7 linked regions of the Homo sapiens genome follow. The protein of the gene in region 1 interacts with the protein of each later gene in a pairwise test. Each region holds a gene or a part of one and is shown in the gene's direction. Other genes may lie near its edges. The genes, in order: PRKAA2, ANAPC11, CCNB1IP1, KIFC3, SAXO4, WFS1 and ZMYND12.

Region 1 (3,500 bases):
CAATATGTCATCTTTTGTGTCGAGCTTCTTTAACAATGCTTTTGAGATTCATGCATGACATAGCATGTGCCATTAATTTGTTCCTTTTTATAGTTGAATAATATTCCATTGTGTGGATATGCCACATTTTGTCTATACAAAACCAGTTGATGGTCATGGTTTCAAGTTTTGGGCTATTATAAATAATGGCACTACGAATATTCACATGTAAGTCTTTGTGTGGACATATGTTTTCATACACCTTGGGTAAATAACTAGAAGTAGAATTGCTGGGTCATATCGTAGTTTTATGTTTTACTTTTTGAGAAACTGCAACACTTTCCCAAAATGGTCACACCATTTTATAACATTCCCATCAAAGATGTATGAAAGTTCCCTTTTCTGAGTATCTTTGCCAACATTTGTTATTGTCTGCCTGATTTATTATAGCCATTCTAGTGGGTGCGAAATAGTATCTCATTGAGGCATTAATTTTGCGTTTCCCTAAGGACTAATGATGTTGAACATTGTCTCACGTAATTACTAGTCATTTATGTATTTTCATTGATGGAATGTCTGTTTATATCTCTTGCTTATTTTCTAATTGGGTTACTTGTCATCTTATAAGTTGAGTTGTGAGGATTCTTTGTAAATTGTGGATACAGATCCTTTAATGGATATATTTTGCAAATATTTTCTTCCAGTCTGTTGTGTCTTTTCATTTTCTTGTGTCTTTTGAAGTATAAAAGTTTTGAATTTTCATGAGGTCCAATTTATTAGTTTTTAAAATTATTTTATGGACTATGCTCTTGATGTCATAGGCAAGAAATCTTTGCCTAGCCCAAGTCTCAAAGATTTTCTTTTATGTTTTCTTGTAAATATTTTATTATTTTAGCCCTGATGTTTAACTATGTGATCTATTTTGAGTTAATTCTTATGTATGGTGTGAGATGAGGTTGTAAGGTTAACTTTTTCCATGTGGATAACCAATTGTCTCAGCAGTTTTTGTTGAATGCAGGTGCATTTTTAATTGTTGTAGATTTTAGACATTGCAAAATGAATTTCTACTAAAAAAGCTAATAGGAGATGATGTAATTTTAAAAGCTTGGCCAGGTGTGGTGGTCCATGCCTGTAATCCTAGCACTTTGGGTGACCAAGGCAGGAGGATCCCTTGAGCCCAGGGGTTCAAGACCAGCCTGGGCAGCATAGGGAGACCCTGTCTTTGATTGATTGATTGATTGATAGAAAGATAGATAGATAGATAGATAGTTAGATAAATGGTTATAAAAACATGGAAATGGAGAAGTAAGGAACATTTTATGTGCTTTCTCTCTTGACTTTTTTCCTTTTTCTTATTTGTTTATTAATTAGTTTTTTTTAGGGACTATGTTGACCAGGCTGTTCTCAAACTTGTGGCCTTAAGCAGTCTATCTGCCTCAGCCTCACAGTGTTGGGATTACAAATGTGTCCCACCATGCCCAACTTTGACTGTTATGCTAATTATAGATTTAGAAATTTTAGGCCAGGCACGGCGGCTCACGCCTGTAATCCCAGCACTTTGGGAGGCCGAGGTAGGTGGATCACTTGAGGTCAGGAGTTTGAGAACAACCTGGCTAACATGGTGAAACCTCATCTCTACTAAAAATACAAAAATTAGCCAGCTGTGATGGTGCGCGCCTGTAATCCCAGCTACTTGGGAAGCTGAGGCAGGAGAATCACTTGGACCCGGGAGGCGGAAGTTGCAGTGGGCCGAGATTGTGCCACTGCACTCCAGCCTGGGTGACAGAGCGAGACTCCGTCTTAAAAAAAAAAAGAAATAAAGAAATTTTAACTTCAGTTGTTGATATATCAATTTATGGACCAAAGTTAGGGACAAAAAGCAAAAATTGAAAATGGAATAGTTTTAACAGCAGTAGTTTTAATTTGTTTTTTAAAAGTATATGGAAATCTTTGTATTTGTTAATAAAGCCTTATTTAAAATGTTTTAAATTTTGTCCTTCATTAGTCTATTGTATTATCAGGTTGCTGAGGGACTGTTTTTGGAAACAGATTATATGGGCTGACAGAGTTTAAAAGTAATGCTTTTTATCTATTTAAAATTTTTCTCTATATTGACTGTTTAGGCTCTCACTCTGGGTAGGGTAAAACTGTTAGAGAGTTCTTGTAATTAGACTTGTTCATTTCTTATCTAACTTCTCTAAAGGTGATAGAAATTCTAGAAGAATGGTCCTGTTGTTTGTGTTATATAAAGACTGATTGAAGAAACAAAATTATAGTGCTAATTATTTATTTAAAAAGAAGCCTGCATTTTCAAGATGAGTAGTAGTATATATGTGGTTTATGATTTAAACAAATTTTTTTCAACATTTTACTCCAGAAATATGTTTACCCATATGTGGTTTATGAAATAAATATTCTTCATTGGAATTGTACACCAAGGGATACTTAGGTTCTTTCTTGTCGGCAAAGTCTCACGAAGAAGTTACCCTTTCCATTTTTCAAATAGTTACATGACTGGCCTACAGACTGCTTTCAATAAATTAAGTAAATATTTTACTAATTCCCCACTTGTTTTTGAGATAACAGGAAGGATAAACCAAAACTTAAACAAACAAACAAAAAGTGTTACCTTATTTTGAAATGTAAATATCAAGTCCTAAATGATAAATCAAATTTCACACAACTGTCCCATCAATTGATGGAGCTAAAAGTTATGTCTGTGGTATTTTGGTCCCTTGCTTGACTTGTGTGCTAGTGTGGAAGCCCTGAACAATTTAACTCCCTGGGCCTTGTTTTCTTCCCCTCCTAAAGGATAACACTGGAGTAGCGAATCTGTGAGGTCCTTTACAATGCTATCATTAAACCGATTTTTAAAAGATTTAACTCCAAAAAAATGGGTATATTTAATTATTCATCCTGGTTAATGAAAATTTGAGTTCCTGAGTCTGAAATGTAGATGTAATGTAGAACAGGGGAAAAGGAAACATATTTTCAATACTTCAGTGATAAAAGGTACAATTTGATTAAGTTGTTACTATATTCTAATCACTGTATGATATATGCACTTGATTTTTTTTTATTCCCAGAGTAATCCTCTAAGTTTGGTATTATCTCCATTTAACAAATGAAGAAATTGAGAATCAGATACTTTAAGTAACTTGTCCAAAGTTCCAGTGCTATTAAGTGGTAGAGCTAGCAATCAAATTCAGGGTTCTCAGACTGCAAAGTCTCTGCTCTATGGACTGTAAAGTCAAAATGCCTAGTATGTTCTGAGTTTCAAACCTACAAGGATATAATTTTCTATGTCTGCTCATATTTATCAGAATTGAGAAAATAAGATTTAAATGTCTTTCAGTCCATATTTAGAGATAAATAACGTTTTTTGAAATGCCATATATAGATGATTAAAATTTATATTTTTACTTTTCCAACATTTACTTGGATGCCTCAATCTTTCATTTCTTATTATAAAATGTGCTGAATTCTACCAGTTTTAACCCATGTTTATTAGAAATACTAGT
Region 2 (3,016 bases), on another chromosome or scaffold:
TTTTTTTTTTTTGAGACCGAGTTTCGATCTTGTTTCCCAGGCTGGAGTGCAATGGCGCGATCTCGGCTTGCCGCAACCTCTGCCTCCCGGGTTCAAACGGTTCTCCTGCCTCAGCCTTCCAAGCAGCTGGGATTACAGGCATGTGCCACCATGCTGGGCTAATTTTTTTATTTTTAGTAGAGACGGGGTTTTGCCTTGTTGGCTAGGCTGGCCTTGAACTCCTGACCTCAGGTGACCTGCCCGCTTCAGCCTTCCAAAGTGCTGGGATTACAGGTGTGAGCCACTTTGCCTGGCCCACATTTTTATTTTCTTTTCTTTCTTTCTTTTCTTTTTTTTTTTTTTTTTTTTTGAGATGGAGTTTCACTCTTGTTGCCCAGGCTGGAGTGCAATGGCGCGATCTCGGCTCACTGCAACCTCCGCCTCCTGGGCTCAAGCGATTCTCCTGCCTCAGCCTTCCAAGTACCTGGGATCACAGGCATGTGCCACTACACCCGGCTAATTTTGTATTTTTTAGTAGAGACAGGCTTTCTCCATGTTAGGCTGGTCTCGAACTGTCAACCTCAGGTGATCCACCCGCCTCAGCCTCCCAAAGGGATGGGATTACAGGCGCGAACCACCGTGCCCCCCCCAACATTTTCATTTTCATCTCATGAAGAAAAGTTGATAGAAAAAAAGCCAGGTGGTTGGTACCCATGTTTATATAAAGATCCTGTCACAGACTCCATAGGATGAAACTCAGCTGTGAAATACGTGGGATTAAAAAGAGATTAGAGTCTGGGCGGGCAGATCACAAGGTCAAGAGATGGAGGCCGGCATGGCGGCCCACGCCTGTTATTCCAGCACTGTGGGAGGCCGAGGCGGGCGGATCACAAGGTCAAGAGATGGAGGCCGGCACGGTGGCTCACACCTGTCATCCTAGCACTGTGGGAGGCCAAGGTAGGCAGATCACAGGGTCAAGAGATCAAGGCAGGGTGTGGTGGCCCACACTTGTCATCCCAGCACTGTGGGAGGCTGAAGTGGATGGATCTCAAGGTCAGGAGATTGAGACCATCCTGGCCAACATAGTGAAACGCCATCTCTACTAAAAATACAAAAATTAGCTGGGTGTGTGGCGTGTGCCTGTAATCCCAGCTACTGGGGAGGCTGAGGCAGGAGAATCTCTTGAGCCTGGGAGACGGGGGTTGCAGTGAGCCAAGAGCAAGACTCCATCTCAAAAAACAAACAAAAAAAAGATTAGTTTAAACTTTTTATTTGAAAATTCTCAAAATTGAATGGCATAGGCCAGGCGCAGTGGCTCACACCTGTAATCCCACCACTTTGGGAGGCCAAGGCAGGCGGATTGCTTCAGGCCAGGTGTTCGAGACCAGCCTGGCCAACATGGCAAAACCCCGACTCTACTAAAAATCCAAAAAAATTAGCCGGGCATGGTGGCAGGTGCCTGTAATCCCAGCACTTTGGGAGGCCGAGGTGGATGGATCACCTGAGGTCAGGAGTTTGAGACCAGCCTGGCCAACATGGTAAAATCCCGTCTCTACTAAAAATACAAAAAAGTAGCCGGGCATGGTGGTGCATGCCTGTAATCCCAGCTACTCAGGAGGCTGAGGCAAAAGAATCGCTTGAACCTGGGAGGCAGATGTTGTGGTGAGCCAAGATCGCACCATTGCACTCCAGCCTGGGCAACAAGAGTGAAACTCCATCTCAAAAAAAAAGAAAAAAAGTGGAAATGTTTGATTATGTTTAGGTTGAAAGCAGAGTTTTGCATCAGCGAAATGGTTTTTCATGAGACCGAAATGAGCGTAAAGCAGAAGCAAGGGTCAAGGTTTTGCCCAGGGAGGACAAGAAGAACTCCCCAGAGGACAGTGGGGAATGGAGAGGACAGTGGGGAATGGGGAGGACCGAGAAGCTACTCACTACCCCAAGTAACCAGGCGTATTTTTGTAGGGCCAGGTGCATGCCCATATTGATTGACAGGGTCTCACTGTGTTGCCCAAGCTGGACGTGAACTCCTGGGCTCCAGCCATCCTACTGTCTCAGCCTCCCAAGTAGCATACCACCACACTCATCTGCCTCCTTTGCTTTTTTTTTTTTTTTTTTTTTTTTTTTTTTTTGAGATAGAGTCTTGCCCTGTTGCTCAGACTGGAGTGCAATGGCACCATCTCAGCTCACCGCAACCCCCACCCTTCTGAGTTCAAAGGATTCTCCGGCCTCAGCCTCCCAAGTAGCTGGGATTACAGGCATGCACCACCACAGCCAGCTAATTTGTTGTATTTTTATTTTTATTTATTTATTTATTTTCGAGACAGAGTCTCACTCTGTCACCAGGGCTGGAGTGCAGTGGCACGATCTTGGCTCACTGCAACTTCCGCCTCCCTAGTTCAAGTGATTCTCCTGCCTCAGCTTTCCGAATAGCTGGGACTACAGGCGCTCGCCGCCATGCCCAGCTAATTTTTGTAGTTTTAACAGAAATGGGGTTTCACCATGTTGGCCAGGATGGTCTCGATCTCTTGACCTCGTGATCCGCCCACCTCAGCCTCCCAAAGTGCTGGGATTACAGGCATGAGCCACTGCGCCCAGCCCTTGTTGTATTTTTAGCAGAGACAGGGTTTCACCATGTTGGCCGGGCTGGTCTTAAAACTCCTGACCTCAGGTGATCCGTCCACCTCGGCCTCCCAAAGTACCAGGATTACAGGTGTGAGCCACTGCACCCGCCCCTGTCTTTGCTTCTTAAGGTGAAATTGAGATGACTGAATCTTAGTACAATTTTTTTTTTTTGAGACAGGGTCTTGCTGTCACCCAGGCGGCAGTGCAGTGTGGCAAAATCATAGCTCACTGTAGCCTTCAATTCCTCAGCTCAAGTGATCCTCCCACCTCCACCTCTCAAGTAGCTGGGACCACAGGCATGCTCCACAATGCCTGGCTAATTTTTTATTTTTTTATTTTTTGTAGAGACAGGGTTTTGCTATGTTGCCAAGGCTAGTCTTGAACTCCTGGGCTCAAGGGATCTGCCTGCCTTGGC
Region 3 (3,500 bases), on another chromosome or scaffold:
TAGCTCCCTACGCAAGATTTAGCTCCCAACGCAAGATTTAGCTCCCACTTATAAGTGAGAACATGCAATACTTGGTTTTCTGTTTTTGCATAAATTCGTTTAGGATAATGGCCCCCAGCAGCATCCAGCAGCTCCAGTTGCTGCAAAGGACATGTTTTTTGTTTTTTTTTTTTTTATGGCTGTGGAAAAGTGTGAAATTTTTAGGCAGAATATTTGCCTTTCTACTCACTAGCTGGTTGAGCTTGGGCAAGACATAGAAATAACATATTAAACATTTAACTCCATGCCAGCTACAGTGCAAAATGTATTTATTACCTCAGTCTTCACGGAAGTTTTAAGAGGTATGTAGTATTTGTCCTCATTTTACAGAGGGGACAGCTGAAGTTTAGAGAAGTTGCATAACTTACCCATGGGCACAGCAAATACATGAGAGAGCCAGGATTAAAATCTAGTTTAGTATGATTTCAAAATCTATTATTTTAGGGAATATTAATTAGTGCAGCTATGATGGAAAACAGTATGGAAATTTCTCAAAAAATTAAAAATAGAACTACCATATAATCCAGAAATCCCATTTCTGGGTATATTCAAAGGAAATAAAACTAGTATGTCAGAGATACCTATACTCCCATGTTCATTGCATCATTATTCACAAAAGCCAAGATACGGAATTGACCTAAGGGTCCATCAACGGATGAATGGATAAAGCAAATATTATACATATGTACAGTGGAATACTATTCTGCCTTAAAAAGGAAGGAAACTGATAGTGAGTGGGAAATAAAACTTGGAGTCTGTTCTGATAGCAGTACCTTATATAACTATCTCTAAAGGAAAACTATACCAAGCTATTAGTCTAGTATTTACTTCCTATGAACAAAATTTTGTGTGTTCATTTTGTTTCAGGTTGAAGATGAAATCCACTGAGGAGGGAAGTCCAGCACCCTGTGTGCCAGTCCAGAACTGGCCCATCTGTAGACCCCCTGAAAATCATATGGGCTTGGATTTGGATATTCTCAACAGAAAGGGTTAAAGGCTGATGGTACCTAAAGCCTGGTACTTGAATTTTGATCAAGATAAGCTGCCTTAAGTTCTCTTCATTACACGTATGTGTGTCTTTCCTATCTAAAAAGCCTAGCTTAGAGATTCGAGTTACCATTGTATCCTATAATGCTAGGTGGCACTGAGTAAATTGGAATAGAGTCAAAAGGAATGGTGATGAAATCTTAACACGAGTATCTGCTGATTTAGTATCAATTTGTAGTTTGTATTAGGCCTTCATGAAGCATCTGTTCACACATATAAAATGTACCTTTTGGCTATGAACACTAGTACTTTGAAGTGATTACTGCCCACAGTCAACAAAATGCTGGGATCATTGATTGTTTATGGAGCATTTGCACAATACTTAGTAAATACGAAATGTCCTTTGTATGGTGGAATGACACTTGTTGAAGCATGCATGACTAGAATCCTGCAGGGAAGCATCACACATTGGGAAAGGTATCACATATTTAACATCAGGATTTATGTGCCAGGCTTTGTGCTATGTGTCAAAACAAAAAGACCAGGCCTCTTGCAATCTGGGTTTTGTTTGTGAGTTGAGATTAATAGAGAAGTTGTTCCTTTCAACCTATAATTATTATCCTGTAAGAATACTTAGATCAAGTAGTTTTTTTTTTAATTTCCTTTTTAAAAAAATTTATTTTAGGTTTGGAGAGATCAAGGAGTTTTAAGGTAGACATTGTTAAAACTGGAGAAACCTTTCACACCATGTCTTGCTTCTTGTCTACATTCTCTTAGTTAACCTTGCATCCTGCTGATCTGAAAACATTTTACATAGTTAAAGCTAAGTATAGGGCAAGGAAGGAGTAAAATAACATTTTGATCATATCTGTCTGAGATATTTAAAATGCTTCAGTTTCTTTCCAACCTACTGAGCTAGCATGTCACTGCATTACATTTTAAAGCAAACCTTTAGCTCTGTGTATTTCCTGTAGGAAGTACCATGGTGAATTGAAGAGTATGGAGTTTTGATGGAATTGAATTTAAATCCTAGCTCTTACTAGTTAGGTGACCTTAGGAAATTTATGTAATTTTTCTGAGCCTCAATTTTCCTGTAAATAGGGGGTTGTAAAATTTAAATGATACAAATTCTATACAGCTTGACAGATAGGATTTCTAAAGAATGATAGCCACTGCTTTCTTTTCTGTCAGCTTATTTTAGACCCATTCTTAAAGGCACTGATGTCCAATGGAGCCTTCTGTTATGATGGAAATGCTCTATGTTTGTACTGCCAATTTAGCTATTGAGTAATGAAAATGTGACTAGGGTAATGGGAGAAATTTAATTTTTAACTCTAATTAAGTGGTTACTTATTGGACATGCAACTTTAAGGTCCACTTGTGACCCACTCTTTTTGCTTCATGAAGCCTTCCTTGACCAATCCTACTTCTTTTCTTAACCTTACTTGCTTTCTACTACTTATTTGGTGGTATGTTAATTTCTGTGAGTCTTGTCTTTCTGGCTAGATTGTATCTGAGGTTATGGATTTTTAAATCTCCACACTGCTGCATGAAAAAGAACATAATGATGAAAGTATAACTGCAGTATTTTTAGCTAACAAGTTTTAGATGATCATTACAAGTAAATACAAAAAATTTTCTAGCTAGTAATTAGGTGAAGAGTAGGGAATAGTGTGAAGGTTGCCTGCAAAGATGAACTGCGTATCTAGTATGTATTTGACCTGAAAGTTCAGATGACACGCAAATGCTGGAAGAGGAAATTAAAGCAAGACTCTTTCTTACACTGCCATCTTGTGGCAGACTTGGGTTACAAATGTTACTAATTCAATTTTCCTATATAAAGGGAAGATTTTCTTCAGATTATTTTGACAAAGGATTACGAAGAGTAAAGGTTAAATACAATCCGGCATTGGCTCAAATGAAATTGAAACATGCTTTGAAAAAACTGACTATTTTGGATTATTTTCTCAGTTATCTGAATCTTAAAAGTTCTTGACTCCTTCCTCTTGCATAACTGTTTTCTTACTGTGAGGTTGTTGACCTTTATAGCCTTTCAGAAGTTGGTTAGACTATTGTGCAGTTTTATCCAAGCTTGTAAATTTATACAAAATTAAGCTTGTGTAGGGGTCCTGCTCGGTTTTTTTTTGTTGTTGTTGTTAAATTTTTTTTGTTTTGTTCGAGACGGGGTCTTACTCTGTTGCCTAGGCTGGAGTACAGTGGCACGATCACAGCTCACTGTAACCTTGAACTCCTGATCCTGCCCTATTTGATATTGAGCTTGGGCATTTGGTGACATTCTCCAAATAGATGAGTCAATAATTTATATTAATGAATGGAGAGTTAAATAAAGGATGAACGGTTACTCTAAATTTTCTTGTGACTTGGTATAGAACATGCTGGTGTGAGTTGTCATGTAATCATAACCTTTGTGAATTTATTTATGTTTTTTAAATTTTCCAGAAATGATCCTAGAT
Region 4 (3,500 bases), on another chromosome or scaffold:
TGGGCCCATAGTGGGTCAGGGGAGGTGGACACCCTTCAAATAGCTATCTTCACTTCCTGGCAGGAAGTGGCCACTGCAGTGACGGATGGGGAGAGTAGTCGACAGCCCAGGAAGCTCCACTAGGAAGTCCTTCAGTTACCCCCACCTCAATCTTAAAACCCCATGTTGCCTCTCCAAGCTGACTTCGCTTCTTCTGTAAATGACATTACTGTCTGAGTCTGGGACTGTAGCATGATCACCTTAAATGTCCTCAAGGTTGCTTTGCACACAGTAGGTGCTCAATAAAGACTTCTGCAGGGAATACCTGAGCTCTGTTCATTTGTTCAGTTCATGAGGGACCTATCCCTGACTGAAGCTTTCTATCCCTGACCAATGCTCTCTGCCCCCCTCCATTCCCCACACCACCTGGTGCCTGGCTCGCACCTGCCGCCTCCAGTAGCCTGCTCAGACTGTGAGGGTTTTTTTGAAGTGTTTATCTCCCTTCTGACTGGGAGTTTTCAGGCCTCATCTCTTCTGATCCAAAAGGACCCCTGGCAGATGCCTGGCACCCAGTAGGCATTATTAAATGAAGACTGAATGAATCTTTGTATCTCAACACCCATACGGTGCCTGCCACATGCTAGGCACAGAGCGCAGGCTAGTCGAATACATGAATGAGAACTTACTGTATATAGACTTCACTTGTCATTGGCCACAGTCAGGGCCCTTTTGAGTCCCTCCTCAGTGAAATGTTAATATTCAGAGCATTCACTGCTCTGCTGACAGGCCTTAGGCAGAGCAGCCTGAAGCCTAAGGGTTAAGCATGTGGTTAAGTGCAATTAGAAAATTAGATGTCTTGGAGGAAAAGGATTAGACTTACGGAGATGCTGCTGACTCGCGGTGCCTCCTCTGTGTGGGGCTAGGACCTGGCTTGTCCTCAGGCTCCAGGCTCAGCTGGGAAGGGCTCAGGTGTGGGGTCTCAGGCACAGCTGATATGCAACTTTCGCACTTCGGAGCCTCCGTATTCGGAAACAAATACCCCCAAAAGGCAGCAGGCCCCATTTCATCCTGCGAGCCCTAGGGTCTTTGGGGGACAGTGCAGTTGGAGCTGCTGCGCTGGGTAACCAGCGACCGGTGGGGCGTAGACCCTTCCAGATGGCTGGCTCTGCCCGAGGTGCAGTTGTGCTGGTCCACGGTCTTCAAGCTTATCTCCCCTTGTTCTCTCCGCAGGCTGCCTGGTGCCCCGAGGAGGCTGCTGAGCCCCAGGCCATGGTCCCCTCTCGCAGGACGTGGAACCTGGGAGCCACGCCCTCGCTGCGGGGCCTGTGGAGAGTGGGCCGGGCCCCGGAGCCCGAGCCGGGGATGGCTCGCCCCGCCCCAGCCCCAGCCAGCCCGGCCGCCCGCCCTTTCCCACACACCGGCCCGGGGAGGTTGAGAACTGGTGAGTCCGCATTTTTAAAATGCCTCTTTATTTCCCTTCCTTCCTCCAGATACCAGAGATGAGACTGAGGTTTCTCACCGGTTCCTAAGCCCAGTCAGAGCTGTCAGGTAATTACAGGGTAACCGACAGCCCAGAGCCAGGCGGGCGTGGAGCCGGAGCGTCAGTCTCGCCGGGCGCTCCTTCCCTGCGCCCCTGTCTGGAAAAGAGGAGACCTGGAAGCCGGGTTAAACTTTAACACGGGTCGGGCACAGAGCAGGGGGAATCAGCTGCATTCCCTCTGGCCAAGCTGGTCAGAGCTCTGCGGGCTGCCGTCCTTGGCCAAGAGCGTGTGGGCTAGCTCCGGTCTCTGCCCAGGCTGGTAAACAAGGTAGGTGAAGTGGCTGCCTGGGCACCAAGCGCCGCTGACACTTGATCCTGCCTGGGCTGGCCCCTGGACGGCGTTGGGAGTGGACCGAGGCTGCTCGGGAACGTGGCCTGGCGGGGCTTGGGGTCCATGTGCTCATTTCAGGTGCTTCTGTAGAGACCCTGACAGCAGGTGGGCAGAGGTCCCAGAGTCTTGGCCCCCACTGTACCCCCCGGGGAGCTGTCAGTGCCAGCTCGCCTTTCTGGGTCATGTCCCCCGGTGCTGCGAAAGTCAAGAAGTGAGCGGCTTCTCTGATTCAGGGCCGGGACTGGATTGGCGGGGCCGCGGAGCTGTCCATGACCCTCTCCCGAGGCGTGGGCAGGTCGCCCTGGTAGTGTGGGGGAGAGAGGGCTCTCCAGGCAAGGTGCCTTCAGGGGTCTGCTCCCTGTCCCTCGTGACCTACAGGAACAGGGTCTAGACTGCCAGCCTGTGAGAGCTAGCAGAGTCCCTCTGGGCCATCAGGTCCAAGCCCCTTGGTGCACAGAAGGGGAAACTGAGGCCCAGAGAGGGCACACAGCAAACTCCTGTTCACCCCTCTCTCCCACCACATTTGTGCTGTCAGTGGCAGCTGGACTGATGCCTTCCGAGGTCTCTCTGCTTCTATGGTTGTCTGGGGCTGGCTGCTCCCAAGCAGCACAGCCAGGCTGGGGATGACCCAGGGGCCTGGGGAAAAGCCTGGGCTTTTGGGCCAGGTAGCCCAGTTGTCTGAAAGGGGCAGAGGATGGCCTCTACCCCATAAGGTTGTCCTAAGTATTACAAATGTAATATGAATGAGTATTGCTTTTCCGGTAAAACAAAAGCATTTTCCCTTAGAAAACTTAAAACACATAGAAAAATATCAAAAAGGAAATAAAAATCACAAGTTAGTCACTGAACATTTTATGTAGTGCCTTCTAGTCGTGTGTGTCTGTGTGTGTGTGTGCATGCATATAGGTCTTTGAAATATTGTGTTATCTCAGCTTTCTAACCTGAAGGAAAAAATTGGGTATTATGAAGATTATATGACCATACAGACTTTTATCCACTTAAAAAATTTAAGACAAAGGTCAGATGAAATCCTGTGTGTGAAATGCAAGCGCCGTGCCTGCCACTGGGCCTCAGCCAGCTCAGCTGCCCCAGGCCCCTCTGAGTCCCCCGACCAACCCCCATATTGCCACCCTGAGAATTGGCTGGCAGAGGGTTGATTAGCACATGGGATTTGAATCCTGGCTCCCTGTGACCCTGGGCACATTGTTAACCCTTCCAGGCTTCCGGTTCTTTGCCTGTCAGGTGGGGAGAATGCCCCCCACCTCCCTGGGGAGTTTTGAGGAGCTGATGGCTACTGTAGTCCTATTGGCCTGTACTGTGGGCCCTTTCTGTGTGCCTGGCACTACATGGGCACCACGTGTATTTCATCCCATTTGATCCTTATCACAGGGCTGTGAAGTTGTCCCCATTTTATTGACAAGCAAACTGAGGACCAAGAAGGTGTGTAAAGGCTGGGTGCTGTGGCTCACGCCTGTAATCCTAGCACTTTGGGAGGCCAAGGCGGGCAGATCACTTGAGGTTAGGAGTTCAAGACCAGCCTGGCCAACATGGTGAAACTCTGTGTCTGCTAAAAATACAAAAATTAGTTGGGCTGGTGGTGCGCACCTGTAATCCCAGCTACTCGGGAGGCTGAGGTATAAGAATTGCTTG
Region 5 (3,500 bases), on another chromosome or scaffold:
TTAAAGCCCAGGTGCCTCCTTGCTCAGGCAAAGCAGCTTCTAGCATCCCAAGGGTAGCTTTCCCACAGAGATGCAGGGCATTGGTGGCCAGGCTGGTGGGCATGGAAAGAACAGGGCAGTGCGAGGGAGTCTGGAGCAGCAGCATCTGCTAAGACATTCCATCCAGCCAATGGTTGGTGGGCTCGATGCTCCCTCAGAAGGTAAATTCTGTGCTGTGCATTCCCTGGGTTAGGAGTGACTGTCCTGGGCATCAGGGAGGGCTTCCAGGAAGGAGGTGGCCCCAGAGCCATGGGGAAGCCTCCTGGGGCCAGGACTGGGTGGGGAAAGCATTATAGGAGTGGTATAAAGGAAGTGTAATTCTTCTTCTTCTTTTTTTTTTTTTTTTGAGATGGAGTTTCACTCTGTCGCCCAGGCTGGAGTGCAATGGCGTGATCTCAGCTCACCGCAACCTTCGCCTCATGGGTTCAAGTGATCCTCCTGTCTCACCCTCCTAAATAGCTGGGATTACAGGCATGTGCCACCATGCCCAGCTAATTTTTGTATTTTTAGTAGAGATGGGGTTTCGCCATGTTGGCCCGGCTGGTCTTGAACTCCTGACCTCAAGTGATCTGCCTGCTTTGGCCTCCCAAAGTGCTGGGATAACAGGCATGAGCCACCGTGTCCTGCCAAGAAGTACAATTCCTTTTTTTTTTTTTTTTTTTTTAAGATGGAGTCTCTCTCTGTCGTCCAGGCTGGAGTGCAGTGGTGCGATCTCGGCTCACTGCAAACCCCGCCTCCCGGGTTCACGCCATTCTCCTGCCTCAGCCTCCCGAGTAGCTGGGACTACAGGCGCCTGCCACCACGCCCGGCTACATTTTTGTATTTTTAGTAGAGACAGGGTTTCACTGTGTTAGCCAGGATGGTCTTGATCTCCTGACCTCGTGATCTGCCCGCCTCCAGGAAGTATAATTCTTAGGACAAACTCCGAGCCAGGAAGCGCAAGCTTTCCTCACAACATCAGTCACCTGTGTCCACCCTGCTTCCTCTCCAACTCCTGGTCCTTCAAGGTGTCCCTGCCACCTCTCTGTCTCCTCCCCCTGCCCCACCCCCTGCTCCGGGATACCTCCCAGAATCCATTCATGGAATAGACTTTAACTGAGCCCTGACTGGGTGCCAAGCCCTGCTCCAGGCCCTGGGAATGTGTGTGCAGCTCCTGCCCTACGGAGCTCAGACCTCTGCATGGGAGGAGACATGCATGTGGCTGCAGCCAGTTAGCGAGAGCTGTTAGGTAATGCGCAAAGAGAAAGGGATCGCGAGGGCTGCAGTGCGCACGGGTCGGATTTGAAATCGGTGGCCTTGAGCAGGTGACGTTTGAACTGAGACTGAAAAGAGGGGAGGGCGGTGTCCTGGAGGAGCAACAGAGAGTCTGAGCTGGAAGGGCCGTTTGTTGTCCTCTGGCCTAAACCCTGAGGCTCAGAGGGGAGGAGCAGAGCTTCCGCCCGCACAGCAGACTCAGCACAGTGGCCGCTCCAGTTCCCACGGAGGTGGGGGAGGGGCAACGATGTTCTGACCCCTTCTTAGGCAAACACCTCCTCCTGTGGCTCTGGCAGAGACCAGCTCCAGTCCTGTCTGCTGGGTCCTTCCAGCCTGTCGTGTCCTGTTGTGTCCTGAGCTCCTGCTGGCTGTCAGGCACGCTTGCTGGTGCTTCCTGGTGCGCGCAGAGCCCCGGGATTGTCATCACTGATTCCTGCATTGATCTGTCTGCACCCCCTCTTCATAAGTTCAAGGGTGGGACCCCCTTCTTACTTGTCTTTGCACCCTCTGGACCTGGCTGTGCTCAGTGAAATGGAAGGAAATGGAAATGAAATGGAAGGAAAGTTAAGTGCCTAGAGAAGTGGATGAGACGGGGTCCCCACCCCAAGGTACTGGCAGGCCAGGGACAGGGGCATCACTGAAACTGTCCTTTAACACTCCAAAGAGTGTTTCAGCGTCAGGTGGAGGGGAGGGCAGGCTTTTTGAGTAAGAGTTCCCCCAGTGGACGTGGGCTTAGGGAGAGCTAGACGAGGACAGCATGAGCAAAGGTGGGGAGGCTGGGCGATCTGAGGGTCGATGGAGAAGGGCAGCAGGGGTTGCAGAGGTGGGCAGAGTCCAGCTTCCAGCCAAGGACCCCTCCTCTCCTCCAGGTACTTTGAGAACATCCCCAAGGGTCTAGACCAGGAAGGCTGGACTCGAGGTGGCATCCAGCCCCAGATGCCAGGAGGCTACGCCCTCAGCCAGCCGGTCAGCTGCATGGAGGCCACCCCCAACCCCATGGAGAGCCTGCGGCACCTGCATCCCCACGTGGGAAGGTGGCACCACCCCCAGCTCTGTTCTTTCTCCCTACCCCTCATCCAGGCCGTGTGCCAGGCCTTTCCCTTCCTCTCCTCTCTTGCTGTCAGTCCGGTTCATTCCTATGAGAGGCCCATCTCCTCTGGCTGGCTCTGGTGTCCCTTCTCCTGCTAGCACAGGCTCCTCCCCTCCTCTCCTTCCAGTGACCCCTCCCTCAGATGGCTCCTCCTCCCTCTCCTGCCCCTGTTCCCCAGGCCCGGTGGACTGGATGGGGAGGATCTGAGCAAGGGGCTCTGGGGTGGTTCAGATCCAGAGGGGGATGCGGGGACGGATCCAGAGATGAATGGACTGTGGTTCGGCCTCACTCAGCTCCTTTCTGCTCAATTCAATTCCTCAGAAATTACATTTATATCAACAATGGCCCAGAGTTGGCAGGCAAAGAATGTTTGTGGCTTGGCTGCCCTGGCTGAACCCTGGCTATGCTCTCTCAGGGAGGGTCAGGCAGAAGACAAGAAGACAAGGTCCATGCCCTGCCTGCCAACACCCCCAACACTCTCCTCTTGCCTCCCTGCAGAACCCTGACCTCAGCTGACCCCTTCTACCAGAACACACCTCACAGCAGCCGCTGCGTGGCACACAGCTGAGCCCTGAGCCCTTGGTAAGGGGCTGGGGATCCCCACACTCAGCTGCTCTGGTTGTGTGGGCAACCGTTATGGGCCAGCCCTGCCTCTCAAGCCCTGGGTTAAGCAAGTCCTGCCTGGGGACCCCCCTTCCAAGTGGGGGGTGACAGATCAGGGGGCCTCTCAGAACCCCTTCTCTGCCAGGCAAGCACACAGAACCACCCCAGAGCCCCTTGCTCAGGCCTCGCCTCTGCTTCTCCTCTACAGGTTTGTCAATCCTAGGGGACAGGAGCCAGGCTACTGTCTGTACCCCCACTCCATCCCCCAGGGGAACACCCCTGCCCAGCTACTTTCCTAATGAAATAAAGAGCATTGAAGCAGAGAAGTGTGACATCACTATCAGGGTGGCTGGAAAAAGGAGGGGTGAGCTGGGGCGGTGGGTGCAGGGGTGGAGGAGCTAGGGCCAGATTTGGAGTCGGAAGGGCTCGGCTGGAACCTCTGAGGAACCATGACACGATGGATAGGCACTTCATTCTCCACGCTCAGTTTCTTGTCCTGTAAAGGGGTCCTCTA
Region 6 (2,916 bases), on another chromosome or scaffold:
TGTCCTTCATCTCCATGGTGATCTGCACCCTCAAGGTGTTCCAGGACAGCAAGGCCTGGGAGAACTTCCGCACCCTCACCGACCTGCTGCTGCGCTTCGAGCCCAACCTGGATGTGGAGCAGGCCGAGGTCAACTTCGGCTGGAACCACCTGGAGCCCTATGCCCATTTCCTGCTCTCTGTCTTCTTCGTCATCTTCTCCTTCCCCATCGCCAGCAAGGACTGCATCCCCTGCTCGGAGCTGGCTGTCATCACCGGCTTCTTTACCGTGACCAGCTACCTGAGCCTGAGCACCCATGCAGAGCCCTACACGCGCAGGGCCCTGGCCACCGAGGTCACCGCCGGCCTGCTATCGCTGCTGCCCTCCATGCCCTTGAATTGGCCCTACCTGAAGGTCCTTGGCCAGACCTTCATCACCGTGCCTGTCGGCCACCTGGTCGTCCTCAACGTCAGCGTCCCGTGCCTGCTCTATGTCTACCTGCTCTATCTCTTCTTCCGCATGGCACAGCTGAGGAATTTCAAGGGCACCTACTGCTACCTTGTGCCCTACCTGGTGTGCTTCATGTGGTGTGAGCTCTCCGTGGTCATCCTGCTGGAGTCCACCGGCCTGGGGCTGCTCCGCGCCTCCATCGGCTACTTCCTCTTCCTCTTTGCCCTCCCCATCCTGGTGGCCGGCCTGGCCCTGGTGGGCGTGCTGCAGTTCGCCCGGTGGTTCACGTCTCTGGAGCTCACCAAGATCGCAGTCACCGTGGCGGTCTGTAGTGTGCCCCTGCTGTTGCGCTGGTGGACCAAGGCCAGCTTCTCTGTGGTGGGGATGGTGAAGTCCCTGACGCGGAGCTCCATGGTCAAGCTCATCCTGGTGTGGCTCACGGCCATCGTGCTGTTCTGCTGGTTCTATGTGTACCGCTCAGAGGGCATGAAGGTCTACAACTCCACACTGACCTGGCAGCAGTATGGTGCGCTGTGCGGGCCACGCGCCTGGAAGGAGACCAACATGGCGCGCACCCAGATCCTCTGCAGCCACCTGGAGGGCCACAGGGTCACGTGGACCGGCCGCTTCAAGTACGTCCGCGTGACTGACATCGACAACAGCGCCGAGTCTGCCATCAACATGCTCCCGTTCTTCATCGGCGACTGGATGCGCTGCCTCTACGGCGAGGCCTACCCTGCCTGCAGCCCTGGCAACACCTCCACGGCCGAGGAGGAGCTCTGTCGCCTTAAGCTGCTGGCCAAGCACCCCTGCCACATCAAGAAGTTCGACCGCTACAAGTTTGAGATTACCGTGGGCATGCCATTCAGCAGCGGCGCTGACGGCTCGCGCAGCCGCGAGGAGGACGACGTCACCAAGGACATCGTGCTGCGGGCCAGCAGCGAGTTCAAGAGCGTGCTGCTCAGCCTGCGCCAGGGCAGCCTCATCGAGTTCAGCACCATCCTGGAGGGCCGCCTGGGCAGCAAGTGGCCTGTCTTCGAGCTCAAGGCCATCAGCTGCCTCAACTGCATGGCCCAGCTCTCACCCACCAGGCGGCACGTGAAGATCGAGCACGACTGGCGCAGCACCGTGCATGGCGCCGTGAAGTTCGCCTTCGACTTCTTTTTCTTCCCATTCCTGTCGGCGGCCTGAGGATGGTCCGCCACGAGGAGCTTCCAGTGCATGTTGCCATGAGGCCTTTCCCCAGTGTGGCCCCAGCCCGACAGGCATGCACCAGTGCCGCCTGTGCCCACGTGTGCAGACTGTGGCTGCAGAGACCTTGCGACCATGTGTAGATTGCGTGGACCCCGACAAAGGGAAGGCTGCTGTGTAGCTCTGTCCACTCTGAATACCAAGTGTGTTGGGAATTGCATGCCATCTCCACCCTGAGCCTGACCTTTCTGAGTGACATGGGTGTGCCAGGCTAGACTAGGAGGTTCCGGTGTCTGGAAAAGCACTTTACAGATGAGATTCCCTCTCCTCCCCCACCTTCAAGCACCCTGTTCCCTCTTTCTTTCTTTTGTGTTGGATTTGTTTAAAAACCAAATAAGCATCTGTGTAACCTCCACAGTAGCATTTCTTATTTGTTTGGTCACTGCTACACCTTAGCAGCTCTTCCCCTTTCCTGGGGGATGTGCACGGCAGCTTGAGCCTGTCACGTGGTCAAGGCCCGGCCCCATCAGAGGCTGGGGGAGGCGGCACATTGGCAGTGTGTCACACTGAGCTGGGCACCACAGGCTGCCTCATGACCCTCCTGTCCAGCAGGTAGTGGGTGAATGTGTGAAGGTCTTGCCTGAATCCATCAGGACTTGGGAAACAGAGAACCCTGTGGGGGCGGCTGTGGGGGAGGTCCCTGCCAGTGTTTAGAAGAGCCTGACTGTGTTCAGTGCCTTGGAGCAGAAAGCCAGGGTCCTGAGTGGCTGAAATAAAAGCCTCTGGTGGAACCTGCAGCGCTTTCCTTCCTTTCTTTACCGAAAAGAAGTCTTTCTTGTACGTGCGTGAGAATCAGCAGAGCCTGCACTCCTGTTGAATGAAATGCAAGTGCAATTTGAGTTATAAAAGAGCAAGGTTGATGTTTCACAGTTGATGGCTTCCTGCCACAGCGAGACCCTGGCTTCATCTCCAGCTGGAGGGGCCCCTGGGGCATCTGCCGTAACTGTGGGGTGGCCTGGGCATGGGCTGCCTGTGCAGAGAGACCTGTGCTGAAGGTGACCATGGAGTGTCAGCCCAGCCATCTTCAGATCTTACTGAGCGGAAAGTGCACGGTCATAATTATCTTTGAATTCCAGTTACCCATGAAGTGGAGCCTACAGGGTGATTGATGGCGTGGGGGCTGCTGTCCATGCGGGAGTGTGTTGTGAAACCACCTCCTGTGTTCCCTAACCTGCAGTGATGACCCCATGGGATTATAATCAGAACTTAGTCATTTGGGGGCACCCGAGCAGCTGCA
Region 7 (3,500 bases), about 14 Mb from region 1:
TCTGCCTCCAGGCACAGTAAGAGAGAGAACCTCCAGGTTGTCCAGAAGCCCGGCCAAATGCGCTACTCTCCTCACCTGCCTGGTCCGACGGCTGAGGTCTGGCCTGCTTGTTGTATTACCATCTCTTTTCCCAACAGGTCTCTGAGATCTGGCATGCATATTTGAACAATCACTATCAAGTCCTCTCACAGGCTCACATCCAACAAATGGATTTACTGGGCAAACTATTTGAGAATGACACTGGCTTGGGTAAGTGGCAGTTTTCCCTGAAGGGAGAGCAGTGACTTCATCTCACCCAATACACAGACCTTGTCCCTAAGAGGGAAAGCAGCTGTCCCTGTCATGAAGCACACCATTGCCACCTTCCCCATGTTGCTGATGGAGAAAACTGAGACACGGGGATCAAAGAGATTTTACCAGTGTTGGGAAGAATTCAGATCCCTATCATCACACATAGCCATTCGGGGGTTACTAAGGGACAGATTTAGAGGGAAAAAAAGACCACATCAAAGCCCCCTGTGATTTCTGCAGAGCATCCATTTCTATGTTATCCCTCCAGGGCAGCAGTCCCAATCTCTCCCTGGCACCAGGGACCCGTTTCATGGAAGACAATTTTTCCATGGACTGGGGGGCGTGGGAGGAATGGTTTCAGGAGAATTCAAGTGCATTACATTTATTGTGTACTATGTTTTTATTATTATTAATATATTGTAATATATAATGAAATAATTATACCATGCATCATAATGTAGAATCAGTGGGAGCCCTGAGCTTGTTTTCCTGCAACTAGATGGTCCCATCTGGGAGTGATGGGTGACAGTGACAGATCATCAGGCATTAGATTCTCATAAGGAGTGTACATCCTAGATCCTTTGCATGCACAGTTCACAATAGGGTTCACGCTCCTAAGAGAATCTGATGCTGCTGCTGAACTGACAGGAGGTGGAGCTCAGGTGGTAATGCAAGCAATGGGGAGTGGCTGTAAATACAGATGAAGCTTTACTCGCCCCTACCACCCCTGCTCACCACCTGCTGTGCAGCCCGATTCCTAACAGGCCACAAAACAGTTCTGGTCCATGGCCTGGGGGTTGGGGACTCTTGCTCCAGGACACGTAAGCCAAGGTAGACTCTACACAGAAGGTGCATTGCTGATTTCTTCTGGTGCCTTAACTTCATGCTTTACTGAACAGTGAGCTTCTCAGTGGCAGGGCCCAGTTGGATTAAACTGTATTCCCCGGGCCAGCAAAGGGCTAAGTGTTGAATAGTACCGTACAGCATCATGCCCTCAGAGACAATGAAAAGACACAGAGGATCTAGTTTCTGCTCAAAAGAGACATACAGTGCAGTTGGTGATATAGAACCTATAGGCAATAACAAAAGAACATTCCTGTGAGTACAAATTATGTTACAAGATGAGTCCCAGAATGAAGAGGTGAGGACAGCTGGGTGGTGTTGAAGAAGGAAGACTCTTTGGAGGAGAGGTTTTGAGCTAAAGTTTAAAAAATTAATAACTTTATTGAATTTTCTCTCATTATGTAAATAGTTCATGTTATAGCTGAAAACTTGGAAATCATAGATATCCAAAGATAGCCAACCTTAACATGATGGTGTATATCCTTTTCGTCTTTTTCTCTAAGCTTAGTACTTGTATAAGTGCTTTTAAATGCATGTAGTGACTTCTCAGTAAATGATGACTAAAGTAGGACCAAAAACTACTGGGGAAAATAGTAAACAGACTCTCAGAGGGAAGCATGAAGGTTGTTGCTTACGCATCTATGGCCTAGACGAGAAGAGTTAAGCTGCTGCAGCTGCAAGAAGTCCCTTCCCCCAGTTCTCTCCTCTCAGCTGTAGAGTGGAATCTGAGTTGGACCCAAGGAATCTGCCTGTGGCAGATTATCTGTGTTTGTAAGCCCAAGAGATCTAGAGTTCAGGACTCCGAAAGAGAGAAACCTTAGCAACTTTGGGACCTGTGGGAGTGAGCCTATTTTTAGGCTACTCTGATAATGGCATGCTAAGCAAAGCTGGAAAGCGGTCTGAAACTCCTGCTTCGGAGCTTCCTGCTTTGCACCTGGAGGGAGTCCTCTAGGTAAAAAACTTGCTGTAATTGGTGCTATTTCCACCAGTGCCCTTGGGAAGGCTTCAGCAGACCAGGCGCTTTAACAGCTGAGTGCTTTTGATGAGGGCAGACTCAGTTGCCAAGAGCCTGTTTTTTCTTTCTTCCCCTTCCAATGCAGATGAAGCCCAAGAAGCAGAAGCCATTCGCATCCTGACTTCAATCTTGAACATTCGAGAATCTACATCTGACAAAGCCCCCCAAAAAACCATCTTTGTTCTGAAGATCCTGGTCATGTTTTACTACCTGATGATGAATTCTTCAAAGGCAAGTTTCCCTAAAAAAGCAACACGTCTAAAATGAAGGTAGAAATTCAACTAGTTGAACTCAAAATTTGTGTTTTGCCCAATTCCAATAGCTTTTGCCCTCAGAGCAAGCCCTCACTCCAAAGAGGTTCAGATGCTCACGATGTTTCTCCTGTGTTGAGTCTAGCCTGCATAATGGAAATTGGATTGTCTTCTTCCCCCGAGGGTTCCCAGTCTTGCATAGATAAAGAGAGTCTGAGGCAGTGCTGGGAAGCCTGCAGGGCAGGAAGGCTCTGGGGAGCCTTGGATGGATGAAGTAGCCGCTCTAACTCCACTCAGTTACTGAGTTCCCTGTTGCTGCGGGGATTCAGGCAGAAATGCATTGCCATGAAATGATTCAAAAAGTAACTTTTTGAGTACTTTTACCTACCAGTTATTGGCCTAAACCCTTTACATAATTATCATACTTAATGCTTACACCAACATTAATGAGGTAGCTATTTTATTATCTCTACTTTACAAACAAGGAAACTGAGGCACCGAGAGGGTCAATTCTTTGCCCAATGTCTTACAGACAGCAAGTAGCATATCTCAGGTTTATTGACTTATTGGTTGATTCTCTCATTCATTCAAACATTTATTGAAAATCTACCATTTGTAAAGCACTAATCTAGGGACTGGGGATACAGTGGTGATCCATACGTTTCCTATCTCTATGGCACTGGTGTTTTTTGGAGGAGTGGAAATAAACATATGTATGTGTAATATAATTTCAGATAGTAGAAACTGTTATAAAGAAAACTAGCCAGGCACAGTGTCTCATGACTGTATTCCCAGTACTTTGGGAGGCTGAGGAGGGATGATTGCTTATGTCCCGGAGTTCAAGACCAGCCTGGGCAACATAATGAGACCCACTCTCTACTAAAAATAAAAATAAAAAGATCAGCCGGGCTAGAGGTGTGCACATGTAGTCCCAGCCACTCGGGAGGCTGAGATAAGAGGATTACTTGAGCCCAGGAGATTGAGGCTGCAGTGAGCCGTGCTTGTGCCTCTGCACTCTAGCCTGGGTGACAGAGCAAGATCCTGTCTCAAAAAAAAAAAAAAGAAAAAGAAAAAGAAAAGAAGAAGAAGAAGAAGAAAAA

Evidence for each region.
Region 2: the proteins of PRKAA2 (region 1) and ANAPC11 interact in binary tests that used the Homo sapiens proteins (3 or more experiments, as listed by UniProt).
Region 3: the proteins of PRKAA2 (region 1) and CCNB1IP1 interact in binary tests that used the Homo sapiens proteins (3 or more experiments, as listed by UniProt).
Region 4: the proteins of PRKAA2 (region 1) and KIFC3 interact in binary tests that used the Homo sapiens proteins (3 or more experiments, as listed by UniProt).
Region 5: the proteins of PRKAA2 (region 1) and SAXO4 interact in binary tests that used the Homo sapiens proteins (3 or more experiments, as listed by UniProt).
Region 6: the proteins of PRKAA2 (region 1) and WFS1 interact in binary tests that used the Homo sapiens proteins (3 or more experiments, as listed by UniProt).
Region 7: the proteins of PRKAA2 (region 1) and ZMYND12 interact in binary tests that used the Homo sapiens proteins (3 or more experiments, as listed by UniProt).

Annotation. Positions count from the first base shown.
Region 1 is NC_000001.11:56,648,314-56,651,813, forward strand, and holds part of PRKAA2 (5'-AMP-activated protein kinase catalytic subunit alpha-2), read left to right. Parts: intron 1-3,500. UniProt on the Homo sapiens protein: Catalytic subunit of AMP-activated protein kinase (AMPK), an energy sensor protein kinase that plays a key role in regulating cellular energy metabolism.
Region 2 is NC_000017.11:81,894,723-81,897,738, forward strand, and holds part of ANAPC11 (anaphase-promoting complex subunit 11), read left to right. Parts: intron 1-3,016. UniProt on the Homo sapiens protein: Together with the cullin protein ANAPC2, constitutes the catalytic component of the anaphase promoting complex/cyclosome (APC/C), a cell cycle-regulated E3 ubiquitin ligase that controls progression through mitosis and the G1 phase of the cell cycle.
Region 3 is NC_000014.9:20,326,780-20,330,279, reverse strand, and holds part of CCNB1IP1 (E3 ubiquitin-protein ligase CCNB1IP1), read left to right. Parts: intron 1-906; 5' UTR 907-1,106; intron 1,107-3,486; 5' UTR 3,487-3,500. UniProt on the Homo sapiens protein: Ubiquitin E3 ligase that acts as a limiting factor for crossing-over during meiosis: required during zygonema to limit the colocalization of RNF212 with MutS-gamma-associated recombination sites and thereby establish early differentiation of crossover and non-crossover sites.
Region 4 is NC_000016.10:57,795,992-57,799,491, reverse strand, and holds part of KIFC3 (kinesin-like protein KIFC3), read left to right. Parts: intron 1-1,209; coding exon of another isoform or gene 1,210-1,248; coding exon 1,249-1,420; exon of another isoform or gene 1,421-1,787; intron 1,788-3,500. UniProt on the Homo sapiens protein: Minus-end microtubule-dependent motor protein. Involved in apically targeted transport. Required for zonula adherens maintenance.
Region 5 is NC_000011.10:61,487,620-61,491,119, forward strand, and holds the end of SAXO4 (stabilizer of axonemal microtubules 4), read left to right. Parts: intron 1-2,162; coding exon 2,163-2,327; intron 2,328-2,881; coding exon 2,882-2,951; 3' UTR 2,952-2,965; intron 2,966-3,194; 3' UTR 3,195-3,309; downstream 3,310-3,500.
Region 6 is NC_000004.12:6,300,850-6,303,765, forward strand, and holds the end of WFS1 (wolframin), read left to right. Parts: coding exon 1-1,619; 3' UTR 1,620-2,416; downstream 2,417-2,916. UniProt on the Homo sapiens protein: Participates in the regulation of cellular Ca(2+) homeostasis, at least partly, by modulating the filling state of the endoplasmic reticulum Ca(2+) store.
Region 7 is NC_000001.11:42,432,023-42,435,522, reverse strand, and holds part of ZMYND12 (zinc finger MYND domain-containing protein 12), read left to right. Parts: intron 1-137; coding exon 138-249; intron 250-2,234; coding exon 2,235-2,380; intron 2,381-3,500. UniProt on the Homo sapiens protein: Required for sperm flagellum function and male fertility.